4 linked regions of the Homo sapiens genome follow. The protein of the gene in region 1 purifies or fractionates together with the protein of each later gene. This does not show direct contact. Each region holds a gene or a part of one and is shown on either strand. Other genes may lie near its edges.

Region 1 (5,064 bases):
TTAATAATTACCATTAATACTTTTTATTTTGTTTGATTGAATTAGGATCTAAGTAAGGTCTAAAAATTGCTGTTGGTTGATACGCCTTTTAGGTCTCTCTCTTTTGATCTTACAAGCTACTTCTCTATCTCTCTTTTTTCTTTTTATTGCAATTTAATTGTTGAAGAAACTGGATTAGTTGTCTTATAGATTTCCCACAGTCTGAACTTTACTGATTACATTCCTGCAATGTCCTTTAATATGTTCCATGGAGTTTATCCTTTTAACTCCTGGAATTTTATAATATTATTCAACTATTTGACATCATTCCTAACATTTCTCATTAAATCTTTATATGATTTCAAATCTCCTCAAACCTCTTTTTATAATAAATCAGAAAAAAGAATCCGATCATTTGTTTGAGACTTTGTACAGATGTGTTTAACTTAATCTGATCCAGTTGTGTGCAGCCTTGTAATTGAAAATCTAGTCAAATGGTAGTTTTCCCAAGGGACTAGACTTACTAGTAAACATTAAAAGTAATTTTTGCAAAAAGACCCTTGTAGGCAATTGCCACAGACCCCTGAACTGTGATAAAATAAAATTTTGCATTAAAATGAAAAAATATTTTTAAAATTTGACCCTTAAGAAATTAATAAAAGAACCAGGCTTATTGAAAGTGGGATCACAGCCTCATATACGTTGACATATAAAATATTATATTAGACATATAAAATTTCTCAGCTTTTCTAGCATGCTGATGTCTGAAATGGTGTAAATGGGAGAGGTGGCAGTTCTTTCATGCTGCTTTGACTTCTGGTTATTTTTGTGTAGCAGCTTTCATTGATGGGGTCCATTCTTGGCCTTGCCTAATCATTTTTCTTGGATGATATAGAGTGTTACAAAAGAATTATTATCTTAATGAATCAGGAATGTTCTCTCTATTTGTTTTCTGACATAGGTAAAGTGGGAAGGATTAGAACCTTCAAGGTGAAATGTCAAACTAGAAATTTCCTTTTATAATCTGCTTGTGTTCCCCTTGGTTTTAGGAGCTGGGAATCCCAAGTGCAAAATTGCAATTGTTTTGGGAAGAACTCAAAATACTTCTCTCTCCAGGTAATTAAACAATTCTGATTGAGAAACCTGTGTAGGAATGAGCCAGTCTTCCTCCTATCTAGGTAATTTACTTAAAATTCACTGTTTGGACTCACAAATCATAATGTAAGATATGAGAGTAAATGTCATATATTTGTATTTCACAAGTATTTTCTAACAGGTGTTTTTGGAAAACATTATAGGGAGTATTGCTGAACATTCTTCGCTGTGGAATTTTCAGTATTAGAAAGTGTTGCTAAATTATCAAAGCTGTTTGGATTAAATTATCAGACAAATTTTTTCAGACCTGTGTAATGAAGTGATTAGATGTTTAGATCAAAGGCAATAATCTTGAAATGTTTAATTATATATATAAGTTCCCAGTTACCATTGTTGAGCAGTGAGAAGCTTCAATCAAACAACTCATTTATTTTCAAATCATTGTTTCTGTTCCAGATCACAGCCTGCATCAGACTATGTTGGTGTACGTCTTTTACACAGTTCCCATTCCAGTCATCACTGCTTACATGACTACATGAAAACATCAAAAAGACAATTGTGATTCTGCTTATTATCTGTTTTATTTTTCTTCTTAGCAAACTTTTTCTAATACAATTTTTCTTTTGACTAGACACAAACAGCACAGCATGATTCTTGTTCCCATGAACACACCTGGAGTAAAAATAATAAGGCCTTTGTCAGTTTTTGGCTACACAGGTAGGTATCCAATAAATATGACCATGCATTAGCAAGCAGGAAGGCTAGAATATGCAGTAACATTGAAGGCAATAGCATTTTAATGCATAAGATAGATTCTTAGATATTCCTTTGTCTGTGACAACTGTCTTAATATAAATGCTGGTGGAGTTCAGAGTAGAGCCAATAAAAAGAAATAGTATAGCATTTATGTAATTTATAATTATATAAATTATAGAATTTATAGAATATAAATTCTGCCTTTTTGGGAAAGGGCAGATTGTATTTAAGGAAGAGCAACACTACCAGTCTTTTCTCTGTCATTCATAAAAATGGATTAATGCACAGATAATCCACAATAAAATTATTTTTATCTCCAATTTTAGCCCTCTTAATCAATCAACTTACAAGAACTGTTAAAAAGCAATGAGTTTTTGACTTATTTGAGTGCAAAATTTTCCTTCCTCTGCCCTTGGGTGGGACTTCTAAGAAGCAAAGATCCATTTGTTTCCTGCCACCTACTGTGGCACGTGTTCATTGTGTACAATAAATATTTGCTAAGATCACCCTCTCAGCAAGTATTTGCTTAGCCACCATGCCCAGCTAATTTTTGTATTTTTAGTAGAGACGGGCTTTCACCATGTTGGCCAGGCTGGTCTCGAACTCCTGACCTCAGGTAATCCACCCTCCTCGGCCTCCCAAAGTGCTGGGATTATAGGTATGAGCCACCGGGCCCAGCCCCTGGCTTTCTTTTTATCATTGAATATGACTAATGAATATGTTCAAGTGGCAGATATAAGACTTGCAGTTTTATAGAATCACTTATCAGTTAAGATGCAGCTGTAGAGTATACCCACAGGGTAAGCATAGGTGGCAAGATGGGATGAGCAAGCTTGCTGGAGAAAATTGCATGTAGGAAATTGTTGGGTTGCAGCGAAACGGCCGCAAAGATACCAAAAATGCGTTTATAATATAGTTGAGCTGCAAATAATTTCCATTGCAGAGGCTACATTTGATTATTCAGTATGAAAACTTTACTAGCACCTCTCCAACTCCCTGTGTCCAGGGCCAAAAGAAACAGTGTGGAGAAGGCTGATTATTGTCTCCTCTGACAGGAAAAGGGTGTAGAGTTAGCATGAGATTATCTCTAAAACTTGGCAGGGAGAAGGGGTGATGCAAAGATAAAATGTGAACGTGTTCCTGGCCTCAGTGTTTCAAATGCCAGTATTTTCAAGAGACGAACACACAGTGGAACAAGTCTAGACTGGGAGTAAACCTACCTGAAGGTCTAGTTTCTGTATCATCACTAATGCCAAGCCTGCTCTTTCCCCTCAAGCAGGCCCCTGTCATCTTTAGGCGTTGGTTTCCACAATGATAAAATAAGAAACATGGATTACATTACTCATTTTTAATTTTTGAAACATTGAAACTTTTTTCCATGCAAATTGTTTGGAACCCCATATGTAAAATATTTCAAAGAAGCAGCAATAATAAAACAAATAAAATACTCTGGCTGGATCTATGGAGCCTGGTCTTCCTTTTTCCTAGCTCTCTGAAATTGTACTTCAGAGAATGAATTAGAAAACATCTGGATCAAAGGGTTTCTCTTCTTGAACAGTTGATGAGTTTTCTGGGCTGCTGGGTCCTGGGGTTCAGGGCTGAGGCTTACCTCAGAATGTTCATGCCATATGGATCTTTGAAATCCTATTTTCTTCAAGTAATTATATTTCAGCAGATTAAGAATATGTGACTCTTTTTTAGTCAACTCCTTTTGCTCTAAATTTTATTTTCTATTTTATAGATAATTTTCATGGAGGACATTTTGAGATCCATTTTAATCAAGTGCGAGTTCCTGCCACAAATCTAATACTAGGTGAGTTGAATTTGGAAATGATTCTTCAGTATTGTACATTAATATTTCAGCTCTAAATCTGGAAAAGATAAGTCTTTCCAGATTTAGACCTGAAGTCTACCTTGATTTAGATATTAGGTTCGTGCAAAAGTTATTGCGGTTTTTGAACTGCAATTACTTTTGCACCAAGGTAATTGCAGTTTTTGGCAAAAGCCGCAATTACTTTTGCACCAACCTAATACTTTCCCTTCTTGTTTACTCCATTTGTCAAGGGAAAGTTTTCTGTTTGGCGGATTTTCTTACATGGAATGGTGAGGTTTTATTTAAGTGTTGGATGTGGTTTTCTATATCACATCAATTGAAAAGATAATATGAAAATTATATAATTCAGAGCAATACACTTTCTCCTAGAACATGATCTGTAGGCCTCTATTTGTTTTAAGAAAACCTCAGTACTTTATGAATTCAAGTATTAGATATAAGTTAGAAGCATAAATAACTTTGAACACTGTATGCCATCCTCTTGCTTATTAGAATACTATATCCCTTTCAAAGAACATCTAGAATACCACCTCTTCCAGGAATGTTTTTGTGTTCATCCCATCCATTCACCAGGCCCCTGATACCTGCCAGGCCCTGAGGTTATAATGATGAACAGAAAATCTCTTCTTCCTTTGCCTTTGTTTCTCTCTGTATCTCTTACCCTTACCCACTCTTCTGGATTCTAAACTCCTAGTACAGGGACTATGTGTTATTCCAACTTTGTATCTATTGCAGCATTAATAAAATAGCTTATGCATAGTACATACTTAAGAGACAGTTCTGAAATTTGAAATGTTTAATGGTGGTGGTTTTAAAAACATAGAAATCAAAATTCCCATGAATTCATAGTGAACCTTATTATAGAACTGACTTTTTTTCACTAGAAAGCCATTTTTATTAAGGGCAGCTCATCTCTTTCCCAGGATTTGTATAAATAACAAAAGGAATGGGCTAGGCCATTTTCACATTCCCCCTTTTTTTCCCCTTTCTTCCCAGGTGAAGGTAGGGGATTTGAAATTTCCCAAGGCCGCCTTGGACCTGGCAGAATCCACCACTGTATGAGAACAGTAGGTTTGGCGGAACGCGCTTTGCAGATCATGTGTGAGCGGGCAACACAAAGGATAGCTTTCAAGAAGAAGTTGTATGCACATGTGAGGACGATTACTTATTTGAATTTATTGTAGCCCGGTGCACTACACTAACATTGAACAAAAACATTACTTGTGAGAGACAGACTTTCTCTACATGAACCGGGTGATTCTTTTCAATAAGGCATATTTATGTCTGTATTTAAATATAGTCTAATGAGAGGTATTTATCTTTATGAAAAATTAAATAGTTCCTAAAATGCTTCAACACCTCTGCACACAAGAGTGTAGACAGTTCCTTCAACTTTCTCA
Region 2 (4,214 bases), about 64 Mb from region 1:
CTAGAACGTATGGTCATTTTTCCGTTTATTTTCAAATACTGTTTCTGTAGTTAAAGCAGCTTAATTATTCATTTATCATTCACTTTTTAAATCTTTGTCCTATAAGGAAGTAAATGGAAATATTACTTCCTATAAGCAAGGAATTATTATATTTGTATATTTTAAAATAAGCCTTTGACCAGTTAAATGCGGCTTCCTGGCTCAATATGAGGATATTTCTTTTTAGACCTTGGGTTTTCACCCATGGAATCAGTAAGCAAATATTAGAAGATAATTTATTCTGGGGCTGAGTGGGGTGACTGACACCTGTAATCCCAAGACTTTTGGAGGCCAGGGCAGGAGGATCATTTGAGGCTAGGTGTTCCAAACCAGCCTGGCTAACATAGTGAAACCCCTGTCTCTACAAAAAATATAAACAACAAAAAAAGAAAATAATTTATTCTGGGGGATTCATACAAAAAAAAAGCTATTTGTGAGATGATGTAGACCTTCTTAAAACAGAAGATATTCTCAGTCTCACATTTTTCAGTACCCACAAAATGATGTCCAGTATGTTCTTGGATTGTTATTACACCAAATTCATTGATTCTTAAGATTTTCCCATGTCACACTGATTTGGAAAAGAATACTGTTCTAGGATAAATTTATTCCAAAACTGTGGTTTCGTGTCACTGTTCTTTCCTAGGCAAAGATTTGAGGCAGCATTTGCTTATTTGCTTTTCTGCCATTGTTTTCCACTCAGCAGCATTTCATGGGTCTTTATGCTGACAAGGGACTGACAGGCAAAAAGTACGCACTAACGATTGATGTATCGATATCTGTTGTACGAATCGTAGAGTTGTTTGGGGATCATTCTCAAACATTCTTTGACCTTGTAATCCCAATTTTTGGAATCTACTCCTAGGAAGACAACTCTTAAGAGAAAAAACTCTCAGCAGTTTTTACTAAAATGTTTAGGGTGATTCTCCAAAACAGCATATATGCCTAATAACTGAGATTAATATGATGTTTAAAAATGTTCCAGAAATGATGTTGAAGAAAACAAAGTAAAATATACACACCAATTGCATTCATTAAAAAGAAGTATAATTGGCTGGGCGCGGTGGCTCACGCCTATAATCCCAGCACTTTGGGAGGCTGAGATGGGTGCGTCACCTGAGGTCAGGAGTTTGAGACCAGCCTGGCCAACATGGTGAAACCCCGTCTCTTTACTAAAAATATATAAAAAATTAGTCAGGCATGGTGGCACACACCTGTAATCCCAGCTACTCGGTAGGCTAAGGCAGAAGAATCACTTGAACCTAGTAGGTGGAGGTTGTAGTGAGCCGAGATCGTGCCATTGTTCTCCGACTTAGGCAACAAGAGCAAAGCTCGTCTCAAAAAAAAAAAAAATTGTTGATGGAGGTTGCAAGAGAATAAAATTACGTGACTTGTTGATCTTAAGTTTGTTGAATCCTTTTCAGGTAAAGATGTTTAAACATACATTAAAAATTCAGCCATTACCGGTCATGATGAGTCACACCTGTAATTCCAGCACTTTGGGAGGCCAAGGTGGACGGGTCATTTGAGGTCAGAAGTTCGAGACCAGCCTGGCCAACATGTTGATACCCCATCTCTACTAAAAATACAAAAATCAGCCAGGCGTGTTGGGGCACGCCTTTAATCCCAACTACTTGGGAGGCTGCGGCGGGAGAATCACTTGAACTCAGGAGGTGGAGGTTGCAGTGAGCCGAGACTGCCCCACTGTACTCTAGCCTGGGCAATAGAGTTAGACTCTGTCTCAAAAAAAAAAAAAAAAGAAAGAAAGAAAGAAAGGAGAGAGAGAGAGAGAGAGAGAGAGAATCAGCTATTATAACAAATAACTGGATAAAAGAGAAATGAGTTCATTTAAATTTGAGCAGTGCTTGAAATGGACAGTATAGCTATAAATGCATATGCGAAGTAAATATATAGAATGTATAAATGCTGAAAACTCTAGATGTCGTATCTGGCAAAAACTTAGTATTTTTAATGAAAGACAACAACCTCTGAACAACTACGGAAACATCTGTCACTAAGTAGAAATTATTTCTAACAAATGTGTAACTTTACTCTTGCAGGCCAAAGAGTGTGGCCAGATGCAAAATAAGTGGCTGATGATAAACATTCAAAATGTTCAAGACTTTGCATGTCAGTGCCTCAACCGCGATGTGTGGAGCAACGAAGCTGTGAAGAATATTATCCGGGAACATTTCATTTTCTGGCAGGTGAGAAGGAGAGTTAATCAGAAGTTTTGTAGAATTTTACTTTTGTAGTGTGGGTTGTTGAGGGAAAGGAATTGGGTTATAATGAATTAAGACATTTAAAAAAAGGTAAAGCCGGCTGGGGGCAGTAGCTCACGCCTATAATCCCAGCACTTTGGGAGGCTGAGGCCGGCGGATCACCTGAGGTCAGGAGTTTGAGACCAGCCTGGCCAACATGGTGAAACCCTGTCTCTCCTAAAAATACAAAAAATCAGCCAGGTGTGGCAGCAGGCACCTGTAATCCCAGCTACTCGGGAGGCTGAGGCAGGAGAATCACTTGAACCCGGGTAGCGGAGACTGCAGTGAGCCAAGATCACACCATTACACTCCAGCCTGAACAATAGAGCTAGACTCCATCTCAAACAAAACAAAACAAACAAACTGTACTGTTCAGTAGAAATATATTGTAAGCTGTACACATAATTTAAATTTTTCCAGTAGCCACATTAAAAAAGATTAATCAAAATAGATGAAATTAACTGTAATAATGTATTTGGTTAAATCAATATATCTATATAACTAATACAAAAATAATGAGATGATCTGCATTTATTTGGTGTTGAGTCTTCAAGATATGGTTTGTATTTTATACTTACACCCCTTCTCCATTTGGAGTAGCAAGATTTCAGGTGCTTCAGTAGCCACTTGTGGGTAGTGGTTGCTGTATTAGACAGTGCAGGTATAGAAGATCTTGAGGTAATTGGAAGCATTTGGCTAAGACTTAGATTTTAGCTTGAGTTTGATACTTTTTAACTCTGTGTTCTTAGACATGTCACTTTAGTCTTCCCAGCTAATGAGATAAGGTTACAGACCTTGTATCATTTTTCCCCCACTGTGAGACAGGGTTTTGCTCTGTCACCCAGGCTGCAATGCAGTGGCATGAACATGGCTCAGCCTTGACCTCCTGGGCTCAAATGATCCTTCCACCTCAGTTTCTTGAGTAGTTGGGACCACAAACATGCACCACTATGCCCATATAATTTTTTTTTTTTTTTTTTTTTTGTAGAGATGGGGTCCTGCCATATTGCCCAGGCTCGTCTCGAACTCCTGGGCCCAAGCCATCTGCTTCCCTTGGCTTCCCAAAGTGCTGGGATTATAGGCATGAATCACCGTGCCGGCTCAATTTTTTTATTTTTTATTTTGTGAAAAGTTATAGAAAATAAAAACTTATGAAGGAGCTTAATTTTTTCCCCTACTGTAAGATATGCTATTAATGTTATTAATTTGCCTGTTTATATTTTACAGGCCCCTAAATTTAATGTAACTTTAATGGTAAAATTCCTTGTATTTTATTCAACAAATATTGATCGAGCAGCTCTTTGCTTAGCACTGTGCTGGACTCTTGAGCTTATAATCTTTTTTTCTTTCTTTCTTTTCTTTTCTTTTTTCTTTTTTTTTTTAAATAAATGGACAGGGTCTTGCTCTGTCACCCAGGCCGGAACACAGTGGTGCAGTCATAGCTCACTGCAGGCTCTAACCCCTATAGGCTCAAGGGATCTTCCCACCTCAGTCTCCTGAGTTGCTGGGACTATAGGTGCACACCATTAAACCTGGCTAATTTAAAAACAAACAAACAAACAAAAAAAAACAAAAAAACTTCTCGTGGAGATGCCCAGGCTGGTCTCAAACTCCTGGCCTCAAGCTGTCCTCTGCCTCTGCCCTACAAAGTGCTAGGGTTATAGGTGCGAGCCACCATGTGGAGCCATAATCTTTTTTTTTTTTTTTTTTTTTTGAGACAAGTCTTGCATTGTCGCTGGGCAGGAGTGCAGTGGCACGATCTCAGCTCACTGCAGTCTCTGCCTCCCGGGTTCAAGCGATTCCCCTGCTTCAGTCTCCCGAGTAGCTGGGACTACAAGCGCCTGTCACCAGGCCCGGCTAATTTTTGTATTTTAGTAGAGACGGGGTTTCACCATGTTGGCCAGGATGGTCTCA
Region 3 (4,214 bases), on another chromosome or scaffold:
ACATATTTTCAAATTTAAAAAGATTAAAATGTACCAAAGCATCAACTCACTTATGAAGTACCTAATTAATTTCTGTTTTATTTTTATCCTAACCATGAGACTACTAAGGAAATATCCATTTTGGTTTAACAGACCAGGATATTCTAAAACTTTACTACTTTATAACTAGTTATTTTTGGTTGAGGACAGAATATGCAGATTCCACCCTATCACCAAAAATAATAATCATACTGAAGGTACATTCAATAACACTCTAAAATATGTATCACATCAGAAGCAAAGTACTTACTGCATCTTCCACATCAATGCATAAATGTGTTCCAGGTTCAGCCTTATTCTCAAGTTCATTCATTTTTTGCATTTCACTGTACAGACTACTCAGAGTTTTGTATGCTTCACGGCAGTTTTTGCATACTTCTGAATAATTTTTTGTCTGTAAAAGACTATGTGCATTCCCCTAAAATGACAAAGGCACATGTAATATATACAATAAACATTATATACAATATCTCTTTAATGTAAGCTATTTACGCTTCTAGAAGACGGGAAACAATATGGTGTGTTAAAGTGCTAAGCTGTGATGTTGAGTAGGTTACTAAATCACTCTGAGTCTCAGTTTTATCATCTATAAAATAAAACGACCTCTACCTGTATTATAAGTCCGAAGGATTAGAGACCCGGTATGTGAAGCAGATGGCAAACTGTTTGGAACTTTCTAGGTGCCTCTAAATTTTCAAAACTGCTGCATTAGCTAATGTTAACTGAGGATAACAATAATTCATATGCCAAATGACTAGTAACTAAATACAAAATTTCCTAAATTATCTCATCATCACAAACCCTCACTTATCTATCCTACTCTCACTGAATAAATAAAATAGGTTCCTGCCTATGCTGACTTGAACACCATAGTTTATCTTACTGAGACAGAACTTTTTAAATGGAAAGGGAAAAGGCACCAAAACTGCATCCCCACTCAACTCTCTTATCACAAGGCTCATAATCCAGGCCTTTCTAGTCAACAAAAAGGGCCAAATACCAAAGAATTGTATAACCTAAAATGAGGATAGTGGAGGTACATAAAATATTATGCTACTAAATCTCAATATTTTGTACTTCTAGACTGACACTTGTCTTTTCAAGAATAAGTTTGCTAAACAGTCAGTTCACACCTTTGCTTTCTATGCCCTTTATTCTTTACTTTGTAGTATGAAGAAAGAATATTAACTGAACATTGGGATGAAAGAGAAAAGAGAAAAATCAAAGTAATTACACTGATGTTGGCCCAACAATGTTACCCTCACCATCTGCTTGACAGAAAAACTAAGTCTCTCCTTAGTCTGCTACAAGAAATAGCCCATTGCTTGTTTTTCACAGAACAATTGTGCACTTAGTTAAAAATTGAGCACAGGGCTGGGCGCGATGGTTCACACCTGTAAACCCAGCACTTTGGGAGGCCGAGGTGGGCGGATCACAAGGTCAGGAGATCGAGACCATCCTGGCTAACACGGTGAAACCCCATCTCTACTAAAAATACAAAACTTAGCCGGGCGTGGTGGCGGGCACCTGTAGTCCCAGCTACTTGGGAGGCTGAGGCAGGAGAATGGCGTGAACCCGGGAGGCGGAGCTTGCAGTGAGCCGAGATCGCGCCACTGCACTCTAGCCCGGGTGACAGAGCGAGACTCCGTCTCAAAAAAAAAAAAAAAAATTGAGCACATAATCCATTTAACTAAAATTGTGCACATAATCTAGATGGGGAGTAATTTAACCTTTTTTTTTTTTTTTTTTTTTGAGACACGGTCTTGCTATTTTGCCCAGGCTAATTTCTAACTCCTGGGCTCAAATGATCCTCCCACCTCAACCTTCCAAAGTGCTGGGATTACAGGCAGGTGCCACCATACCTGGCCACAATTTTTATTCAAATTTAAAATGCACATATCTTTTAATAATGTGAAAGTTGCAGACATTAGGATGAAATCACCTTTTGACAGACCAAGACAAAATAGAGACAAAAAGAGTCCTTGTTTCCAAAGACTTTCTAAAAACCCCACAAGAAATCCTTTCACGCCCTTCATTGCAACTCCTGCTTTCACATGGTTTATCACTGCCATTCTTTAGGACTGCAGTAATTCAGATAAGATGCACTCAAAAGAACACTTGCCCAGTAATGGCATCGCCACCAATGAACTGACAACTTGGCTTTGAGCCTCAGGAACCAATGAACTCAGTTTCCAAGCAGCTTGTGTGAACCTCTCCCTTTTTGCTAATAAAAGCTTCCCTTTACCCTTCCCTCACTGGATGTACTGGTGGTTTGCCAGTGCATTCCAAATTACCATACTTCTTTCTTATTCCCTAATAAACTCATCATATTTGGAGATAATTTTCTCTAGTGTCTTTTTCTTAGGCTGCCAATATAGTAATTCTACTTCTAGAAATCTACCAAACTCATACAAGTACTCTAAGTTAAATGAAAAGAAGACTGTTTATGGTGTACAATTTAAAACTTATTATTTCCAGAATTTTCCATTTAATATTTTTGGACTGCAGTTGGCCACAGGTAACTGAAACTGTGGAAAGTGAAGCCATATATAAAAGGGATGACTTTATAGAAAAATTGCTATTTGAGTGTTACAACACACATCAGTCCACTAAAGGCTCTGAAGTCCTGTAGTAAAGCATTTCCCAACCTTAATGGAATACTAAACCCTTTCTGATAGGACATCTATTAACATGCTGCAGAACAAATTCTGAGAAATGTTCACCTAATTTTTTTTATTTTATTTTTTTGAGACAGAGTCTCTCTGCAACGCCCAGGCTGGAGTGCAATGGCACGATCTCAACTCACTGCAACCTCTACTTCACTACAGGCGTGCACCACCAAGCCTGGCTAAGTTTTGTATTTTTAGTAGAGACAGGGTTTCACCATATTGGCCAGGTTGATCTCGAACTCCTGACCTCAAGTGACCTGCCTGCCTTGGCCTCCCAAGGTGCTGGGATTATAGGCATGAGATACTGCACCTGGCCCAATTTTTATTATTCTCAAGGAAATTCATAATTCAGTGTTACCACATTTATTACAGAAGAAATCATACATGCTTATACCCTAAGCATGTGTACATCTACTATGGGGATTACTTACTTGTTATGTAAGTTTCAAAACTACATTTTAACCAGAGTTCCAACCTCGTCCTTCACCACGACCGGGCAAGTTCCAATACCAAAATTCAAGAGTCAGAGATAGAGATGGCAATAATCTACAAGGTTAAGATTCTTAAAGCTACCTTTTATTATCATAATTCAATACTCAAAGTTATCTTACTAAACAGTGCTTTTTAAGGTAGGTAAAACATACTTAAGCAAATTTCAGGCAAAGAATAAACTTCCTATAGACAGAATCATACTACACTGCAAAATACCTACGTAAGTCAGATTGAAAACCATTGTGTTTTAATTAAACAATCACACACCTCAATCAATGTTTTCACAATCATTATCTCACCAGATTCTCATTACAAAATACTTTAAGATAGGCAGGATAGATATTATCTCCATTTTACAATGAGAGAACTGAGGTTTTCATGATTTGTAAGTAGAAGAACTTACTTAAGAGCAGAAATCCAGGTCCACTAACTCCTTTACATCATGAATTTAGATAAATATCAATAATTAGTGCTCTAAAAACTTGGAACTGCACATTATTCCTTTGTACAAGGCAGCATTTTAATTTTAAATATTATATATAAAATACCTGAAGGTTATGTTCAAAGCAGGTCAGGGTGTGATTAAATAGATTAAGGAAATATACTGTGCTGTTTGATAATTCTTCACTGTTGTTTGTTAAACAATCTGTCAAAAAAATTCAAAAAGTATATTAATATAACTCAAGGAACAATTCTATGTTGTCATTTATATCTTAAGCTATCAGCTTCGTTTCACACTACAGTAATTCTTTATTCAAACAAGCATGAATTTTCCAAATATATGAAGCTTACTCCTTTTATTTTCCAAAAGTTAAAAAAGTCATAACCATTTTCATGAACATGTTAAAATAATCACATACTCTCTTTTCATAAAAATATACCAAATAAAATTCAAATGGACTTTTGATGGCACAAGGTCATAATCACGGAATATCAGCTATCAAATGCTGCCTTAACAGTGCTATTTAGGCATAAGACTGTTTACCCTGCATTAATTTTACCGAAACTCATATG
Region 4 (4,214 bases), on another chromosome or scaffold:
TGTAAAGGGAGCAGAAGCAGGTCCCAGGCCGAAACCAAATGATTTCCACAGTGCACACTTGGCCTCTGGTGACTGAACTTTCTGGCACCTATTTTGGGTCTTCAGAGGCTCCTTTGCCTTCCTCTTGGTTCTCAGCTATGTCCTGGGAAACTGAGATTATCAGAGAAGTGACTTTCAGATAAGCCAGGTGCCCCCATGGCACTGACTCCAGCCCTGGGTCTGCCCCTGTCCCTGATACCCCAGGTCCGATTGGTCCCCAAGTCCTGCAGAACACTTATGAGGACCCCTATATCCAGGGCTCCCACCTTGTCCCATTCCTTATCATCTCCCACCTGAGATATTACATTCTTGATCTTAACTCCCCTGGCCTTGCTCCATCCCTGCAATCACTCATTCCATACCCCTTCCAGAATCATCCTTCAGGGTACAAAGTTATTATATCACATCCCTGCCCTAAAACTTTCTCTGGATGCCCCATGACCCCACCATCACCATTACCCAAATATAAATCCCTAAGATACTCTGCCTGGCTTTCAAAGCATCCATCCTCACCCCACCCCACCCCACTCCCCCTCCAGCCTCCTCTCTGATGTGAACACTCTACACCCGCTAGATTTGGGCACACCAGGCCAGTTTCCACACCCATGTTGTGCCCCATCAGTTCTCTACTGTGCACTCTCAGCCCAGCCTTGGCTGCACAGTGGCATGCAAGCTCCTCCAGGAGGCCCACTGAGCTTGCCTCTGTGCTTCCTCTGCACATCTGCACATCCTCTCTCTAGTACTGCTGCGAGCTCCCCAGGTCCGGCCCCATCCTGTCTCATCTGTGGGCCCTGTCAAGCCTGATGTGCAGCTGGTGCTCAGTCAGTAGGGGTGCTGGGAGGAGGGGTGCTGGAGGAGGGGTGCTGGGGGAGGAGTGCTGGCTCATACCCTGAAATCCATCCTGGTTGATGTCACCAATGCTGGCCACAGATAAACCAAAGGCAGAGCCACTGGGGCCATGAAGAAGGAGTGAGGGGTGAGCAGGGAAGGAGGTTCCCGCCTGGTTCATGAAGACATAGATGGCACCCCCTACTTCCTCTTTCCTCTCGAAGTAGTAGGGGGCGCCCACCAGGAGGTCCTGCCACCTACACAGGAGAGGAGGGAAATGGGAGTGTGAGGTCAGCCTCCAATATGCAGCATAGTTCTTGTTTGACAGGTGTGACTGTGCCAGGGCACAGGGCTCTGCAAATGGCTCTTCCGGCCACAGGTCATGGGTGGGAAGGACATGTGCATGGGAAGGACATGGAGATGCCAATATGACCCACCAAATAGAAGACATATGTCATGGAGACGCCATGCAGGCACAAATCAAACCCAAACAATCCACATCCACTGGAGCATACAAATCCCAAGCAGAAACAAGCAAACGCAGGGGTCCCACAAATGCCATGTGCAGGTGCTCAGACTCCCATAAAGCCTGACTGCAAACCTCTGCAAACAACATGCAGACAGCCGCACAACTGCAAATCCTCCACTCCCCTCACCTGGCTTAGGTAAGCCTTCCCCCGCCCATCGCTCTCCCTGGCCCCAGAGGATGTCCCTAGATTCTCACCCATCATTGTTCAGGTCTGCCAGGGCAATGGCGCTGCCAAAATAGGCGCCCACCTGCGAGCCCTCCAGCACCTGCCTCCTCCGCAGGTCTCCGCCTGCCTCCTGGCTCAGCAAGAACACCGCGCCCATATGTCGGTGCCGTGGGGCACCTGTCACAATGGTGATGTTTTTGGGGTGCAGGATGAAGCTGCCTACCTGCATCGTGTACCCTGGGATAGAGGGAAGATGTTCAACCAAGGTCCCAGTCAACTTCGTCTCTTTCTACTCTGGACCCATCTCCCTATTCCCTCTCTTGCCCCCCACCATGATGTTCTATCCCACTATTCCAAGTAGGGCAAGAAAGTAGACTCCAGATGGCCAGCAGCCATGGCCCAGTTCTGCCTGGACACTGGACTGTGAGCATCCTGAAGTCAAGAACTTTGCATCTTGGGAGCTTGGAACAGGGCCTGGCATACAGGTGCCGGCCAATCCGTGTGTGCTAGTTTAACTAAATGCCATTAGTCACAACTGCACTCTGGCCTCACCTTTCCACCAGGGACTAAGCCCCCTTCCCCTCTACCACTTGATGGGCTACCACTACTGTACTCACCAATATAGAGGTTTCCTTGGTCCTCTGGGTCCTTGTAACTATACTCAGATAAGTCCCACTCCTTGCGCTGAATCATGTAGCTGTTTCCTTCACAGGGATTGAGGGAGGGAGAGTAGGGAGTATAAGTCACCACCGGTTTCTGGTTTCCTCTACCATGTCCAGCCCACCCCCACCCCCACCCAACAAGGATAGTAATAACCCCTTTTATTGGTGAGCATTTTGCCATTTATAAAACACATCCTCTTTAACAATTCTTTTTTCCTTTTTTTTTTTTTTTTTTTTTTTTGAGACAGTCTTGCTCTTGTTGCCCAGGCTGGAGTGCAATGGTGTGATCTTGCCTCACTGCAACCTCCGCTTCCTGGGTTCAAGCGATTCTCCTGCCTCAGCCTCCCGAGTAGCTGGGATTACAGGCATGCGCCACCATGCCCGGCTAATTTTTGTATTTTCAGTAGAGACAAGGTTTCACCATGTTGGCCAGGCTGGTCTCAAACTCCTGGCCTCAAGTGATCCATCTGCCTTGGCCTCCCAAAGTGCTGGGATTACAGGTGTCAGCCACTGTGCCTGGCCTATTATAACAATTATTTGAGGTTAAATTATGACCCCCATTTTGCAGATAAGTGAGGCTCAGGAGGGAAGTTGACTTGCTCATAGTCCCATGGGGAGCTGGTTGTAGAGCCATGGCTAGAACTTAATCACTCAGGCTCCTGGATATTAGATGCTAGATGGCTTTCCCCACTCTCTAGACACTGAGGTCAGACTCCACACCATTATCTCTTTCTGGTCCTGACCCCAAACTCGGGCTGCCTAGCTGGACCCTGCACCCAGGGCTGCTGCTGGAGAGTATCTGTGACTTTGCCAAGGTGCTACATGACCAGGGGGTGGGAGGCAGGACCAGAAGAGGGGGCAGAGGCCTCAGCCTTCGGTGAGCCCAGAGCTGTGACTATGCCTGGGGCTACATGTTGGTCAAGAGGAGATTCAAGGCTCCTCTGCCTGCTGATTCTACAACAATAAAGGTTCAGTAAGGGAAAAGGGGTCCCTATTGCTACAACCTGTGTGATGGAGGGAGGCAAAGAGATGGAGGGAGTATAAGCTGTCAGACACCCCCTGTGAGACCATGTGTAGTGTGGTCTTTTACAAGCATGGTCTTTTACAAGAAAATACCCTTCATCCTCTAAAATGATGGTCCTATATATATCAACATGAAAAAGTGCCCATGACTTTTGATAAGAGAAAGAGAGAAAGTAGCGATATTTATTTAGTTTTTTGAGATAAGGTCTTGCTCTGCTGCTCAGGCTGGAGGACAGTGGCACAATCGCAGCTCACTGCAGCCTCAACCTCCTGGGCCCAAGCGATCCTCCCACCTCAGCCTCCTGAGTAGCTGGGACCATAGGTGTGTGCCACCACACCTGGCTAATTTTTAAATTTTTTGTAGAGACAAGGTCTCCCTACGTTGCCCACGTTAGTCTTGAACTCCTGGGCTCAAGTGATCCTCCCACCTCAGTTTTCCAAAGTGTTGGGATTACAGGCATGAGCCACTGCACCTGGCGATAACTATTATTATAGGACATTGCCTACTGTACTATGTAGTGGTTGTACCAGGAGCATGTTTTATTTTTAGAATTAGTTTGTAAATGGTTAAACTGAAGTCAGATGGACCTGTATTCCAATCCAGGTTTCATAACTTTGTTGGCCTTGGGCAATTTACTTCTCTAAGTCTTAGTTTTTGTTTTTGTAAAATGGATATAATAATACTTGCCTCATAAGAGTATTTTAAGAATGATTAGGCTGGGCGCGGTGGCTCACGCCTGTAATCCCAGTACTTTGGGAGACCGAGGTGAGCGGATCACGAGGTCAGGAGATTGAGACCATCCTGGCTAACACGGTGAAAGCCCGTCTCTACTAAAAATACAAAAAAATTAGCCGGGCATGGTGGCGGGCACCTGTAGTCCCAGCTACTCAAGAGGCTGAGGCAGGAGAATGGCGTGAACCCTGGAGGTGGAGCTTGCAGTGAGCCGAGATTGCACCACTGCACTCC

What was found. The genes of interacting proteins can lie anywhere in the genome.
Region 2: the proteins of ACAD11 (region 1) and UBXN7 purify together in Homo sapiens (affinity purification with mass spectrometry; 2 studies listed by BioGRID, with this or other methods). This does not show direct contact.
Region 3: the proteins of ACAD11 (region 1) and OSTM1 fractionate together in Homo sapiens (co-fractionation; one large-scale study listed by BioGRID). This does not show direct contact.
Region 4: the proteins of ACAD11 (region 1) and ITGA3 fractionate together in Homo sapiens (co-fractionation; one large-scale study listed by BioGRID). This does not show direct contact.

Annotation. Positions count from the first base shown.
Region 1 is NC_000003.12:132,575,523-132,580,586, reverse strand, and holds part of ACAD11 (acyl-CoA dehydrogenase family member 11), read left to right. Parts: intron 1-1,028; coding exon 1,029-1,095; exon of another isoform or gene 1,096-1,705; coding exon 1,706-1,791; intron 1,792-3,571; coding exon 3,572-3,643; intron 3,644-4,660; coding exon 4,661-4,815; intron 4,816-5,064. UniProt on the Homo sapiens protein: Acyl-CoA dehydrogenase, that exhibits maximal activity towards saturated C22-CoA.
Region 2 is NC_000003.12:196,369,928-196,374,141, reverse strand, and holds part of UBXN7 (UBX domain-containing protein 7), read left to right. Parts: intron 1-2,099; coding exon 2,100-2,246; intron 2,247-4,214. UniProt on the Homo sapiens protein: Ubiquitin-binding adapter that links a subset of NEDD8-associated cullin ring ligases (CRLs) to the segregase VCP/p97, to regulate turnover of their ubiquitination substrates.
Region 3 is NC_000006.12:108,050,742-108,054,955, forward strand, and holds part of OSTM1 (osteopetrosis-associated transmembrane protein 1 precursor), read right to left. Parts: intron 3,847-4,214; coding exon 3,749-3,846; intron 458-3,748; coding exon 290-457; intron 1-289. UniProt on the Homo sapiens protein: Required for osteoclast and melanocyte maturation and function.
Region 4 is NC_000017.11:50,068,896-50,073,109, reverse strand, and holds part of ITGA3 (integrin alpha-3 preproprotein), read right to left. Parts: intron 2,267-4,214; coding exon 2,180-2,266; intron 1,800-2,179; coding exon 1,592-1,799; intron 1,125-1,591; coding exon 928-1,124; intron 1-927.